2 linked regions of the Homo sapiens genome follow. The protein of the gene in region 2 purifies or fractionates together with the protein of the main gene of each other region. This does not show direct contact. Each region holds a gene or a part of one and is shown on either strand. Other genes may lie near its edges.

Evidence for each region.
Region 1: the proteins of LRRC32 (region 2) and STAT3 purify together in Homo sapiens (co-immunoprecipitation; 3 studies listed by BioGRID and IntAct, with this or other methods). This does not show direct contact.

The regions. Positions count from the first base shown.
Region 1 is NC_000017.11:42,322,443-42,329,442, forward strand, and holds part of STAT3 (signal transducer and activator of transcription 3), read right to left. Parts: coding exon 6,968-7,000; intron 3,758-6,967; coding exon 3,674-3,757; intron 2,620-3,673; coding exon 2,521-2,619; intron 2,405-2,520; coding exon 2,269-2,404; intron 1,184-2,268; coding exon 1,131-1,183; intron 913-1,130; coding exon 818-912; intron 702-817; coding exon 562-701; intron 53-561; coding exon 1-52. UniProt on the Homo sapiens protein: Signal transducer and transcription activator that mediates cellular responses to interleukins, KITLG/SCF, LEP and other growth factors. Once activated, recruits coactivators, such as NCOA1 or MED1, to the promoter region of the target gene.
Region 2 is NC_000011.10:76,667,356-76,675,310, forward strand, and holds the start of LRRC32 (transforming growth factor beta activator LRRC32 isoform a precursor), read right to left. Parts: upstream 3,393-7,955; 5' UTR 3,259-3,392; exon of another isoform or gene 2,407-3,258; intron 1-2,406.

The DNA.
Region 1 (7,000 bases), on a different chromosome or scaffold from region 2:
TTGTTCAGCTGCTGCTTTGTGTATGGTTCCACGGACTGGATCTGGGTCTTACCTGTCACAGGACATGGGAAGGAAAGATCATGGAACCTACAGCTAGGTCATCTCAGAGAAAACTGCCCATTTTTTCTTTCCTCGAAGGGGAAAAGACTTAAGCCACCCTAGTGTTGAGACCCTGAACACCCTGTTCAGTGGCCTGGCACTGTGGAAATATTCAGGCTGGCTTCTAATTAAGAAGAGGCTACTAGTTGGGTCATAGAAAATAAACTTGAATATAACTACTTGCGTAAGATATATTAACAGGGTTAAGTAGAAAAAGAGATGAAGAATACAATTTAAATTGCAAAATTCTCAACAAATAGTCACTGGAGCAAGCAAAACAAAGCAAACCAATCCTTCAGCTGGAAGGATTTAGAAGTCACGCAAATGTGTTTTGCGAGTCTGAGTGAAACAGGGAGTCAAGGCCATCTCCACCCACCAGGGGGCAGTAGGTGCTTGCAACTAGAAGCAGTGATGAGGCCTCAGCAGCCACCAGCAGGTGGGGTGGGTGGGAGCCTCCCTTACCGCTGATGTCCTTCTCCACCCAAGTGAAAGTGACGCCTCCTTCTTTGCTGCTTTCACTGAATCTTAGCAGGAAGGTGCCTGGAGGCTTAGTGCTCAAGATGGCCCGCTCCCGCTCCTTACTGATAAAGCCCATGATGTACCTGGAGCCAAGGAGGAGGAACAATGTTGTTATTGCTAACAGGGCATCCATCCCCTGCCACTGGCTTGCTGAGAGCAGGGGACTTGGTTACATCTGTGCACACTCTGTCCAACCTACCCTTCGTTCCAAAGGGCCAGGATGTACTTTTTCACAAGGTCAATGATATTGTCCAGCCAGACCCAGAAGGAGAAGCCCTTGCCAGCCATGTTTTCCTGGAGAAAAGAGTAATGGGAAAGCCAAGTCTACTGCCATCCCAGCCCTTCCCTTCCTAGGGGTGCAGTGCATCACCCAAATCCTCAGGCCCGTCTACCTTCAGGCAGGTCCTACTGGCCGCTGGACCAAGAGTTCAGGGCCTTCAAGCCAGAGCCCTCAACGACAGCCGTGCAGGTGAGCATTCCCATTCCCACGAGAATTTAACAAGATTGCTTACTTTGCAAAATTTAGCCCATGTGATCTGACACCCTGAATAATTCACACCAGGTCCTGAAGGAAAGAAAAAGAGTCAAGTAGTACATTTTCAGCTTGGGGTCAAGAGGTTATTTCTTAAAACAGAACACACACACATTCATCCCACAATGGGCCACAAAATAATCAGCTTTCACATCTTTGAAGGTAGGCACTGTTGTGTGTGTGCACATGAGGACAAACACTATCCCATCATTTGACTCACTTGTGTTGCTGGGTAGCCCAGCAGGGATGGAGGGTGATATAACAAGTCCCCCTGCTCTTCCCAACCTCGGGTGGTAGGCTGGGAACCAACAGCAGCACTCACTAACAAGCTGACATCGGGTGTCAGACAGGTGTATTTGGTGGCAACAGCTTTATTAGAACAAAGCTACTTCTAGCCCAGGTGGCACATAAAATATTCCACTAATTCTTTTTTAAAAACTAGCCTACGCTGGGCACAGTGGCTCAAGCCTGTAATCCCAGCACTTTAGGAGGCCGAGGTGGGCGGATCACGAGGTGAAGAGACGGAGACTATCCTGGCCAACATGGTAAAACCCCGTCTCTACTAAAAATACAAAAATTAGCTGGGCGTGGTGGTGAGCACCTGTAGTCTCAGCTACTCGGGAGGCCGAGGCAGAAGAATCGCTTGAACCCAGAAGGCGGAGGTTGCAGTGAGCCGAGATCACACTACTGCACTCCAGCCTGGGCAACAGAGCAAGACTCGTCTCAAAAAAATAAATAAATAAATAAAATAAGACAAAAAAAACCAACTAGCCTATAGTTTATTAAAAAAATGGACAGGGAATGTCAAGCCTTTAGTGCCACCTTCCAACACACACTTAAAAGATCTTCTAAAGTTAGATAGAGTGGGTGAATGAGACAGCAACCAGGAGAAAAGAAATCTACCTCCCACCTCAAAAATGATCACCTCGACTGAAAACTGCAAACTGTCTCTGCACCCCAACTCCCCAACTCCCCTGTTTCCTGGCACCAGCACAGCGCCTTGCTCAGGAAAGAAACATGGCCTAATGCTCAGTAGACATGGCCCAAATGAACAGCCCTATGGGCCGGATCCCTTTTCTGGGCGGGTGGGCGGGAGGGAGAAGGGGTGAAATGCGGACCCAAGAGTTTCTCTGCCAGTGTAGTCAGCTGCTCGATGCTCAGTCCTCGCTTGGTGGTGGAGGAGAACTGCCAGCTCAGGACCTCGGCCACTTGATCCCAGGTTCCAATTGGGGGCTTGGTAAAAAAGTTTACATTCTATTGGAAAGAACACATTTGCTTGTTTAGATGAGGGATGGTGCTCATTGTCTATACTAGGTACCCCTAAGTCGCAAGAGATCCCGGGGCACCAACTAAAAGGAGGGGGCACTAACCTTGGGATTGTTGGTCAGCATGTTGTACCACAGGATGGACGCCCAGGCATTTGGCATCTGACAGATGTTGGAGATCACCACAACTGGCAAGGAGTGGGTCTGCGGAGGGAGTGGGGACTGAGCTGGGGAGGCAGAGGGGCTCTCACAGCCTTGGAAATCTCTTCACCCGCATCTCACGGGGCTCAGAATGAAAGGACATGCCATAAACCACACCTGCTGCCAACTCTAGGCGAGGAGTGTGAGTGAGTCAGCTCAGTGAGCACTCATAGTGGAAAGAATGCCCAGCGTGGCCACACAACTCAGGCTGCAGTCGGAATATACCGGTCCCTTGTAAAACCTGACTTGCTCAAAGCTTGACTCACAATCCACAGATTCCCCATTTTTAAGACCTTGGAGGCATTCTCCAAGACTTGAAGCTGTATCTTCACATGAAACAGGGAGGTCTCAGGAATCAAAGACCAGGATTCCTGCTTTTCTAGGTATATCTTAATTTAAAAATCAAGAAAGTTGGGAAAGGAGAATGTCATTGCCACAATTTTCTGTATACTAAACACACTGGCTGCTAAGACTCTTATGCCCAAACTTTATAAAGTCAGTTCTAATTTCTTTTTTTTTTTTTTGAGACGGAGTCTCACTCTGTCACCCAGGCTGGAGTGCAATGGCACAATCTCAGCTCACTGCAACCTCTGCCTCCCAGGTTCAAGTGATTCTCCTGCCTCAGCCTCCCGAGTAGCTGGGATTATAGGCGTCCGCCACCATACCCAGCTAATTTTTGTATTTTAGTAGAGACGGGGTTTCGTCATGTTGGCCAGGCTGGTCTCGAACTCCTGACCTCGTGATCCACCCGCCTCAGCCTCCCAAAGTGCTGGGATTACAGGCGTGAGCCACCGCGCCCGGCCAATCAATTTCTAAATAGAGATTTTCATATCAAGTTTGCTGAAAGCTGAATATACACACATCTTCTAAGCATTCAAGCAAGACTTTATTGCCAGATGGGATGCCAAGGATTTTTTTGGAGAAAAGTAAGCAAAAATAAACACAGTGTTAAGCAAACAGTAATCATTCCACCTTCTCTTGTAAAAATCCCAGTGGAAGTTTTTGTCCTGAGTCACCCCTGTACGTAGCCTCTCACCGATTCTGCTGCAGAACTTACCTCTAGGTCAATCTTGAGGCCTTGGTGATACACCTCGGTCTCAAAGGTGATCAGGTGCAGCTCCTCAGTCACAATCAGGGAAGCCTACAGTAACGAGAAGGACACTCTTAGGCCAGGTGTGGTGGCTCATGCCTGTAATCCCAGCACTTTGGGAGGCCAAGGCAGGAGGATTGCCTGAGCCCAGGAGTTCGAGACCAGTCTAAGCAGCACAGCAAAACTCCATCTCTGCAAAAAATACAAAAATTAGCTGGGTGTGGTGGTGCACACCTATAGCCCCAGCTACTCGAGAGGCTGAGGTGGGAGGATGGCTTGAGCCTAGGAGATGGAGGCTGCAGCGAGCTATGATTGTGCCACTGCACTCTAGCTGGGGTGACAGAGTGAGACCCTGTCTTAAAAAAAAATTAAATTAAATAAAAAAAAAGGCTGAGCGTGATGGCTCACACCTACAATCCCAGCATTTTGGGAGGCCGAGGCAGGTGGATCACATGGTCAGGAGTTCGAGACCAGCCTGGCCAATAATTTGGTGAAACCCCGTTTCTACTAAGAATACAAAAATTAGCTGGGTGTGGTAGTGGGCGCCTGTAGTCCCAGCTACTCAGGAGGCTGAGGCAGGAGAATCGCTTGAACCCAGGAGGCAGAGGATGCAGTGAGCCGAGATCACGCCACTGCACTCCAGCCTGGGTGACAGAGTGAGACTCTGTCTCAATCAATCAGTCAATCAATAAAAAAGAGAAGGACACTTTTCCTCAGAGAGAATGGCATTCAGTACTAACAGCCACAGCCAAGGAAAGTGACATGCCAAGCCTCACCACACCAAGAAGGGTAAGCCACCAGGTGGTCACAAACAAACTGCCAGGGACACAACTTGCTCGGCACTTACTCTCTTCAACACCAAGAACTTCCAATGCTGTGATCCTCAACCTAATCCTTTACTCAGTTTGTATTATAATATTACATAGATCCAATTGGTTATTTGTAAAATACGTAAGGCACAAAGAATAACAAAACAATATGAACCCACCATTCAATTTAAGGAAAAGTCCATCACTCCTAAAATTCTCTGGGTGCCCTTCCCCAACCCCATCCCCTTCCCTCCTCCCTCAGAAATAACTGCTATTTTGTCTTTTGGGTTTATCATTTCCTAGCCCTTTTTGTCTTGTTTTGTTTTGTTTTTTTACAGTTTTACCATATTTGTTTATCTAAGCAATGCAGGTATTGTTTAGTTTGGGACATTTGTGAACCTTACACTTATGGACTCCAATGAATTCTTTTGGGATTCACTTTTCACTTGATGTGAAATGAATCCACATGGTTATGTGTATCTGCAGTGTATTCCTTTTCACAGCTGCGGAGTATTCCATTGTGTCTATACCACAAATAATGTATTCATTCTAATGTTGATGGGTATTTATTTGGGTTGCATTTAGAGCTTATAATCAGGCTGATGTCCACTTTATATATGTCTCCTGGGACATATATGCAAAGATTTCTCTGCTATTAAATCCTGGGAATGGCACCGTTGGTTTACAGGTATGTTCATTTTTATACTGCCAAATTGTTTTCCAAACTGACTACAACAATGTCTCACATCAGTACAGCAACCTTATTTTAAGTAAGAGTTGTCAATGAATTCTCAAAAATTGAATTCTAGTCTGGGCACAGCGGCTCATGCCTGTAATCCCAGCACTTTCGGAGGCCGAGATGGGTGGATCACGAGGTCAGGAGTTCAAGACCAGCCTGACCAATATGGTGAAACCCTGTCTCTACTAAAAATGCAAAAATTAGCCAGGCGTGGTGGCATGCACCTATCGTCCCAGCTACTTGGGAGGCTGAGACAGGAGAATCGCTTGAACCTAGGAGGCAGAGGTTGCAGTGAGCTGAGATCGCACCACTGCAATCCGATAGAACGAGACTCCGACTCAAAAAAAAAAAAGAAAAAAGAAATTAAATTATAATTCATTTTTAATACTATTTTTCTGATTATAAAAGTAATATATTCAGTTTAAAATGCAAATATCACAGAGACAGTCTAGAATAGCCATGGATACCAACAGCAGCACTAATACACATAGCACTGCTGGTATATTCCTCCAGAATTTCTTAATATACATATGAATACACATAAGAGTATAGTGTATTTTTAAAACACATATACTAATAATACTATTCAAATTATTTTACATTTTGCTTTTTCTTAATATGTCATGTACATTTTCCCATATCATTGCATACAGGCTACTTCACTCTACTGTCAAGTAAAATTCCACATTTTTAAAAAGGACTGCTACATTTTATTTTATTTATTTTTTTGAGACAGAGTTTCACTCTGTTGCCCAGGCTAGAGTGCAGTGGCAAAATCTTGGCTCACTGCAAGCTCCACCTCTCAGGTTCAAGCGATTCTCATGCCTCAGCCTCCCCAGTAACTGGGACTACAGGCGTGCACCACCACACCCAGCTAATTTTTGTATCTTTAGTAGAGACGGGCTTTCACCATGTTGGCCAGGCTGGTCTTGAACTCCTGACCTCAAGTGACCAGCCTGCCTTGGCATCCCAAAGTACGGGGTGTGAGCCAGCACGCCCAGCTAGGACTGCTACATTTTAAAGAGGAAGAATTGTTCAGGGGACAAATGTAAGAAAAAGAACGGGGCATCACAATTTTTAAAAATGACTGAAAACTAGCCTTCCGTCACATTTACCTTTTTTTGTTTGTTTGTTTAAAGTTTATTCTTGACAATAAGAATCCAATAATCTGAATCAATGAAAAGCAGAAAATAAGGGGGATAAAGAACAAGATGGGTTTTTGTTTGTTCATTTTATTTTATGTACTCTTTTCCTAAGCAAGCTAATGCAAGGTGGTCATTTATTTTAAAGTTTAACTCAAATCTGTTGCTTTTACACCCTCTATCCCACCTCAGTGGGAGAGAAAAACAGGGCACTAAAAATGGAGCCAAGCAGGGTCAGCCGCAGGAGCTGGATGGGGAATTTGGAAAGCCCCAGGCAAGGTGGAAAGCTGCTTTATACCACATGGGTGTGGAGAACAACTCAGCAAGGGACTTTCCACTTCTCCTTAAGGAGGAGCCAACTCCCAGATATTCACGGAAATGTTCCAAGCCAGAGAGCTCCATGGCACATGGAACTTCTGTTCATGTCACTTTGGCCTGAAGTGACTTTTTGGAATAACTACAGCTGAAAGAACAGGTTGATGTTTCTAATTCTGGGGATTAAGAAGGATCTTTACCCCTCTCTCCCTCAAGGAAAACACCCCAGTTGTCTTTCATCCCCAACAAAACTTACATCACAATTGGCTCGGCCCCCATTCCCACATCT
Region 2 (7,955 bases):
AGTGGGTGCTCCCTCAGTGAGTGCTGAACCGCGATTCTGAAGGATGCTGCAGGAGAAAAGGCATTCACAGGGCATTTGAGGGCAGTGTCTTTGACTGTTGGAACCCGCTAGTGATGAGCTATGGACGAAGATGGCTGCTCTGAATCCCATCTCTCTTGAAGGCGCACAGACCACAGCCGGACCCGGTAAACCCTATTCCCTGGCTCCCCTCAGGGCCACAGGCGCTGCCCCTGCAGCTGCTCTGCTCTCACCTGCATTACAGGTTGTGCTTTCACAGGAAACTTTGTTCTGCTGTTTAAAAAGCAGAACGCCACCGCCCGTTAGAAAGTTAGCATATTCAGAACTGAGTGAAAACCCCTCCGGCAGGGCCTTCCAGGCCACTGGGGAGCATGCCCTGCCTGGCCAGCTCTGCTCTCCAGCCTGCTTCCCCGGTGTCCCCTCTCACATTCTGGGTTCTGGACACCTCATATTTCCTTCAGTTCCCTGAGCAGATTTTCACTGCCCCAAACCTTCACTTTCTCCCCTCTCCTCTTCTGCTAAAGACCTCCTCATCCTTGGGGTCCCAGCTTAGATGGGCCAAGAGGCCTTCTTTGGTTCCCCAAGTCTGGACTATGTCCTCCAGTCCTCCCAGAGCCCCTGAGCTTCCAGTGAGCACAGCACCAAGCCCTCCGTGGCTACTGGGCCCCACCCCCTCCCATGGGAAGTGCCCCTAGAGAGGGGCTCACCATCCTTTAAGATGCATCTCACAGCACACAACAGGTCAGCAGCGGACAGAAAACCGACACTAGGAGTCTCGGTGACATGGGGTCGTTACTGAGAGCAGTTCTCCTTGGCTCTCCCTTCACCTCTCTGCAACGTTCCCTTCACCCATCCATGCCGTCAGTGGGCTCTGACTGCTCTCCCTGAAAGAGACCCCGGATCTTCCTACTTCCCTCTTATCACTGCCACAGACCGAGACGCCACCCCAATCCTGGCCTTGACCACAGCACCCTGACCTCTTATAATCTGTCCTGTACCTAGCAGCCAGAGTGATAATATAAAATCATCTGTCAGATCCTAAACCTCTTCTGTTTGAAAATCTCCAAGAAAATCCAGGCTATCCACAGTCTCCTCTCTGACTCTTGCCCATTTTCCCTTCCCTCACCACATTCCAGCTTTCCTGCTGTTCCTTCAACACAGCAAATTCATTCCTGCCACAGGGCCTTTGCTCCTGCAGTTTCCTCTCCCTGAATGCTCTTCCTCAGCTCCTCACACATGTCATTGTTTTCCCACATTTATCATTTCCTCATCATTTATTTCTTATCATGTGGGAACAGGGGCCTACTAAGTAGGTACTCACTAAAGACTAGTGAACAAGTGGCAAAATCAGGGCAGAAGCTCAGCTGCAGTGGACTGAGTGGTGAGTGCCAGGTGAGGACAAGGAAGGGTCCTAGGCCCTTATTTCCCCTTCCTCTGCCAAACCCCACTCTATCCCCAAGGTGGCCCTGTGCACATCCAGAAGGGATCGTCCCTGCAGCACATGGGCACTCTGTCCTGGCATCTGACGGGAAGGGCCCCTCAGCTGTGGGCCCTCCTCAGTGGTGCCCAAGTACAGGGTGTAGCATTTAAAGACTACTCTCTCTCAAAAAGGAGGACGGTGTCACTTAGACCCAGGCTTGCATCCAAAGCCCACCACTCACCAGCTCTGCTCCCTAAGGTAAGTCCCTTCCTTTCTTGGTGCCCCAGTGTCCTGTCTGCAGGGTAGGCAGCTGGGTTCCAGTTCTGCCACTGGCCAACCCCAACTATTGTGATGATCAGGCAAAGAATGGTGGCGAAGGTGCCCTGCATCCTCACTGTCCTTCCCAGCTGACACAGTGACCCTCGCAGGGCTGAGCATCCCAGGTGAGGTGTGCTCAGTGGGGAGGCCCCAAGCCTGCAGACAAGTGGCCTGGGCAAGAGGAGGCAGGAGAGTCGGACTCTCAGGAGTCCAACTCAGAAAAGTGCCAAAGAATGTGTGTGTGTGTGTGTGTGTGTGTGTGTGTGTGTGTGTGTGAGAGAGAGAGAGAGAGTGAGAGAGAAAGAGCAGGGGTACGGGGGGCAATGACTACTACCACAATAAGCCCACCCCTACATTTAAGGATGTTAGTCTTCTAAGCACTTGACCTATATCATCTCATTTAATTCTCACAATCACCTATTGAGGAAATTACTGTAATTCCCATTTTACGGATGAGAAAACAGTTTCCGGAAAGTGAAGTGACTTACCCCCAGAGTTACCCAGCTCATAAGGGCTTTGGAGCTGGGATTTATCCAGTTCTACATGACCTGAATACTGTGTTTTCTCCAGCACATGCTGAGCCGACTGCCCCCAATAGAACTGTCTTTTTTTTGCCCATGAAGAAAAGGAGGCTCAGAGAAGTGACTTACCCAAAGTCACACAAGGAGAAAATAGCAGGGTCACGATCAGAATCCAGTTCATCTGTCTCCAAAGCAAATGTTCCCACTATACCAAATCAAGGTCTCCTTCCCTAAGCCCTGCCAACGACCCCTCACACGCAGGAGCAGGGCAGACTAGCTCACAGTCTGGCCTCTGAGGTCCTCTCTCCCTCCTCTCGGCCTCAGCTGACTTACTGGCAGAGTGGGGTCCTGGGAGAGCTGCTGCGGACGTTCCTGTCAAGCAGTGAATCACTAAGGGCAAGCCTCGTTCTGGAGACATGTGCATCCCACGGGGGAATTAGACCTTAACCCAAAGGAATGTGGCTGTGATGGCGGAATTTCAGGCAGCTCGGCGTGGGGGTGGGGGCCCCTCACATCTTACCACCCATGAAGAAGGCTGGGTTCAGAGCCCCTTGGAGAGCGGTGGGTGCCCCCTACCCCACTACGAGAAATGGGCAGGCCATCTAGTGCTGTGGGATGGGCAGCCCCACGCCTGGCTGGGATCGGAGCGTTGCAGGAAACCTGAATTCAAATTCCGGTTTGCCCTTGCCTAGCTGTGTGTTCCTGGGCAAGTCACGGTCTTCAGGCCATTGTTTTCCCAGCTGTCAAATGGGAAGGCCGGCCTCACCCCTTTGCGGGAAAGATCCGCCAAGACAGGAGCGCTGGGGAACTCCCAGGGACCGAGGGAGGGTCAGCCCCGGCTCCACGCGCGCAGTGGGGATGGCGGGAGGGGAGTGTTTGGGGGGCGTCCCTTGGGACCAGCCCCCGCCTTGCGCTCGCTAGAGGCGCGCGACAGTGCGCCCCCCGAGGGCCGGCCAGCCTCGCCTGCCCGGCGGCTCCTACCTGGCTCAGCGCGGCCGCAGCTCCTCTCCCGGGCAGTCTCGGCACATTTTGCGCAAACCCGCCCCCGGGTCCCACCCCGCGCCAGACCCCGGGGTCACGGCCCGAGGAGGAGCAGGCCGCTCAGCTGCCCCACCGGAGCCCCCGCGCTCCGGCTGCAATTTAAATACCTCTCCCGCCGGCCCGCCCCGCCACGCCCCCCTCTGGCGAGGCCGTGGGGTCCTAGCGCCTGGCCCCGTGCCTCGGTTTATCCGGAGCCGGCGGGGGCGGAGTGGGGTGGGGCGGCGAAGCATCTTCACCACCCTGGGACCTCGGCCGGGAAGGGGCGGGGGCCCAGTGTGGGGGGATGAGAGGGCGGGAGGGAGAGGGGTTGCAGAGGAAGCGCCGTGGGAGCGAGGCCCATCCCAGCGGCCGCCGCACGTGCAGTTCGCGGCCCCGCGGGGTCCGGAGGGGGGCGCGGTGGCTCTAGGAGCCGCAGGTCCACAGAGGAAATCCGGCCTGGCCCCGATTTCCCAGCTGCTGGCGCCGCCGCACTTAACGCGGGGGCAAACAGGCGAGGTGACGGCGGGGCTGAATGCGGAAGGAAATGACCCTTCGCTGGCCCTGGGGCGGCCGCGGAGGGGGTTCCCCGCACCAAGCCGTCCACTCTGGTGGGTCCTGGCAGGTCACTTTTCCTCTCCGGATTGTGCTCTAGTGTCTGGACCCGTACTCCTCCATCATCTGCGGGACCCTTCAACAGCCTGTGAAACGGCACCATCAAAGTCCTGTTTTCGGATGGAGAAGCTGAGGCTAGGGGTGGGGGCAGTGTGTACACATGAAAACCAATTGTCTGAGACTAGTAAGGTCCCTATTTATAGCTGGGGAACCTGAGGCTCAGAAAAGGTTAAATGGCGTGTCCAAAGTCAACACAGCTAATAAGAATCAGTGATTTGAGCCCAATCTGTTCATAAAGCTAAGTCTGATTCAGTTTGGGCATTATCTTGCCCGAATTTTTAAAGTACTGTGCAAATATGGGGTGGCGGTATTGTCATTTAGATTGGAGGTTGAAGCAGATCTTTCCCAAAGCCACCTCTCTTCTAGATGCCTTGACCCTACCAAATCACAGGTACCCTGCCTTGCTGCCTGTGGACTCTAGTATGCGGGTCCCTAGAAGAGAGGGGCCCTGGCTGTCCTCCAGGTCCTGGTTCCAAGTGTAGAAGGGGCCTCTTCCACAGTGTTTCTCTTCCCTGATCGTCACCAGCCCTGAGAGTGGGGCAGGGTGCCCCATTTTACATGCATGAAAGTGACCACCCAGGGCCTTGTGGCAAATCAGGGTAAGGCTGGGCTCAGAAGCGGGATTCCCTGAAGTCTCTACAGTTACTGCCTTTTCTTACCCCTGTTCAGTCCACTGTGGAGATGGATCTGGGGAGATGGGGTCAACCCAGAGAGGACAAGCCATGATAGCAGGTGCCATAGGGGCCTGACCTAGTCTTAGAAGAGGAAATCAGGGAAGGCTTCCCTAAGGAGGAGGCCTGAGCTGCAGTGAGGGGATGGGCAGGAGGTGCAGGTAAGGAATCTCTCAGCAGGGCCTGCGAAGGGTATCCAAACCTCTTTCCCTTCCCTCCCAGCCACCCAAGGCCTCAGATCTATGTCCACAGGGTCCTAGCTGGTCCATCCAGCCCCCTCTCTGGTCTCTAGTGCTCCATTTGGTCAAATGGAACCTCAGTGCCCCTATCTGTAAAGTGGGAAAGATAGTAGCTACTACTTGGAGTTGGTGCTAGAACTAAGTGCAATGGATCCAGCTGGAGCCTGCACCCAGTGGTTGTTAGGCAACTTCTCACTGCCTTTATTGTGGCAGTTGGTGGATACTCCTATATCCTGTGGGCTTCCTTTTCCAGGTCCCTGTCCAAGGGGCCAAATGTTCAGGAAAGTGCTTTGAAGCTGCCCTGCAGTATGAGCAGAGTGACTGGATCATTCGGGCAGTTCCTGGCCTTGTGTATCAGACCAGCTCCCAGCCATCCAGACCCAGGCTCGCTGAGCACTGCCTCACCCTTCCCGGAGCTGCTACCAAGCAGAAATCACTGGGCCATGGCAGAGCTTCTGCTAGGGCCCAGGAGGGCGGGGCTGGGGCTATGGTGGGCTGGGGGTGAGTGCCCCACCTCCCACTCCCCCGCCCCCAGAGGCTGTGGTTGTGGTTAGTCAGCTCGTGGGGTTCCACCTTACTCAGTGCCCGGATGGGGCTCCCCCACATTTGAGGCAGATGGGCAACCAAGCGTGCCCACCTGCTGCAGATGCCTCTGGGGACCAGGGGCTAAAAGCCGGGAAGCCCACAGGCTCAGCGCCCCTTCCTTCATCTCTTCACTTCTTTGGCAGTCATGTTGTTGTGTGACTTTTGGCAGGTTGCTCAGCCTTCCTGACCTTGGTTTGCTGACCTGCAAAGTGAAACTAATTACAGTACCGGGTGTATGAGGATGGCCTGTAATGACACGTGTGAAGTTCCTGGTCGCGGGGGCCTTTGCTCAGTAAACATGACCTCTCTCCTCTGGTGGGCCCAGGACAGTTGCTGAATAAAAATGCCCAATGCCTACTTTTTTGGAGCTCCCAGGCCAGATGAGAGACAGATGAGAGCACAGAGGATGATTGAGTCCAGAGGCCTTGAAGGCCAAGTCTAGGAGGCAGAGCTTGAGTCTGCAGGAGGAGGAGTGGGTGGAAACTGAGCAGACTCAGGCTTGCCTTGCAGCCATGTGGAGGGTCTTTTAAAGGCCACCAAGTCCAACTTCCCATCCAGTGTCACTTAGCTTCTGCTGGCACACCTCCAGAAATGGGGAGTTCTCCTGGGCAGCCCATCAGCAGACAGCTCAGTCTTCATGGTGTTGATATTTTTGTGGAAATGCTTCCATTCCTTCATGCATTGTCAGTGAAAATATAAGAGATGCATCTCTTCCTGTGTCCTCGGGACTACCATTCTGTAATGAAAAAACCCACTCGGGCACCAAGTCAGGCTCAAAGCTCCCTGGGAGGATTTCACCTCAGGCCAGATTGAAACCTGAGGGTCCTACGCAGGAGCAAGTGGCCCAGAAAGGTGATGATGTGCACATCCTGTGTGACCTTGGACAAGCTGCTAAAACTCTCTGAGCCTTGCTGTCCTGATCTAACTGTAGAGCCAGAGTGGAAAGGACCATGGCACCCTAGACTGACAATTTAGTCTCCACTGCTGTTTGCTGAACCCTCACTGTGGGTCAGTCCTTCATCTCATGTGGCAAATGAGAGTAAAGACAGCCATAGACAGCCTTCCAGTTAGGTGTCTTTATTCTCAATGACTGACCAGGAAACTCAGAGACCTTTATTCTCAATTACTGACCAGGCTCAGAGAGGTTAAGCAACTGCCTAAAGTCACACAGCACAGCTATGGAGCCAGTAATTGAACCGAGGTCTTCTGATTTTCAGGCCAGGTCTCAGTGCAGAGATGTGGCTGTCCTCACTCCCTGCTTCTGCCCAGCACCCACATGGGCCCCTGAGAGTCTGGGAGTTCCCTCACGAGCCCCTTCTGGGCCCTGCCTTCTAGGGCAGAACCCTGGGTTCCCCAGTTCTTCCCCTGACTCCCCTCCCTTTCTCCCTAGGGCAAATGGACTCAGGCCACACCAGCTCTAGGCCACCTCCTGGAGGGGCAGGAGGATGTTATGAATGGCCCAGTGGTGGGGAGTAGCTGGTCTCTTGAGTGGGAATATCAAGGGCTTGCAGGACCAGGCCTGGGGCCAGGTTCTTTACTTATCCCCTGCCCATAGCCATCTGACGAGGGGAGGCCTATCTCTGCCCCCCTTTTACAGAAGAGAGATGAAGCCTGCAGGGACTCTATGACTTGCTGGTGGTCACACAGCAGACACAGTGGGCATGCCCATCCAAGTCCTCAGGCTCCAAGTCCTCATTCGTGGCCAGAGAATGAGGACTTACTCTGCGGGTTTTCTGTTCTTGATGGAGGCACAAGGCACCCCCTCATGGCAGCACTTAGCGTTACCAAGGCAGGGGAAGCAGGTGCTGGTGAGACCCCATATACCCCGCAGCCACCACACGAAAGGCTCCTGGTTCAGAGTCCCGTCAGTGACTACTGTGACTGAAGGGACTGGAGGCTCCCAGAGGCCCCAAGGGAGTTGGGGGGATGGACCAGGCAGGGCAGGATCAGAAGTGTCTCCACAACCTGATGCTGTGCTGAGCTGTGGACCATGAAACCGCAGCTTTCTGCAGCACCAGGCTGCTGGGAACCCGAGGTCTTGTGCCTTTGAGCCATGCAACTTTTTCCTCTGTTTTAACTGCTTAAAGGTTAAACCTGATGTACCCTTTTCTTGATGATCCAGTGTTTATCACTTTGGGCTTTGGTTATGGTCTGTGAGGTCACAAAGTGTCATCTCCAAGGTACTAAAAACAGCAACGAGCCAAGGCCAGGATGAGGTGGCTGCAAACACATGAGCTCCTAAAAGCACCACTCACAGGAGCCGGGTGCTGGCATAGAGGAGGAGAGGTGGCCATAAATTTCAGAGAATCTTCCCAGCCTCCTCTAATCCCATGCCAAGAAATATGACAGATTCTAGGCCCAGAGAGGGTGAGGACGTGGCCCGAGGTCACACAGTGGGCCGAAGGTCTTATTCTCCTCCTCCACTTTCTTCCACAGGCCTCACGTGGGGTGCTCCTGGGTTCACACAGCAACCTCTTCAGAGGTCTAGCCC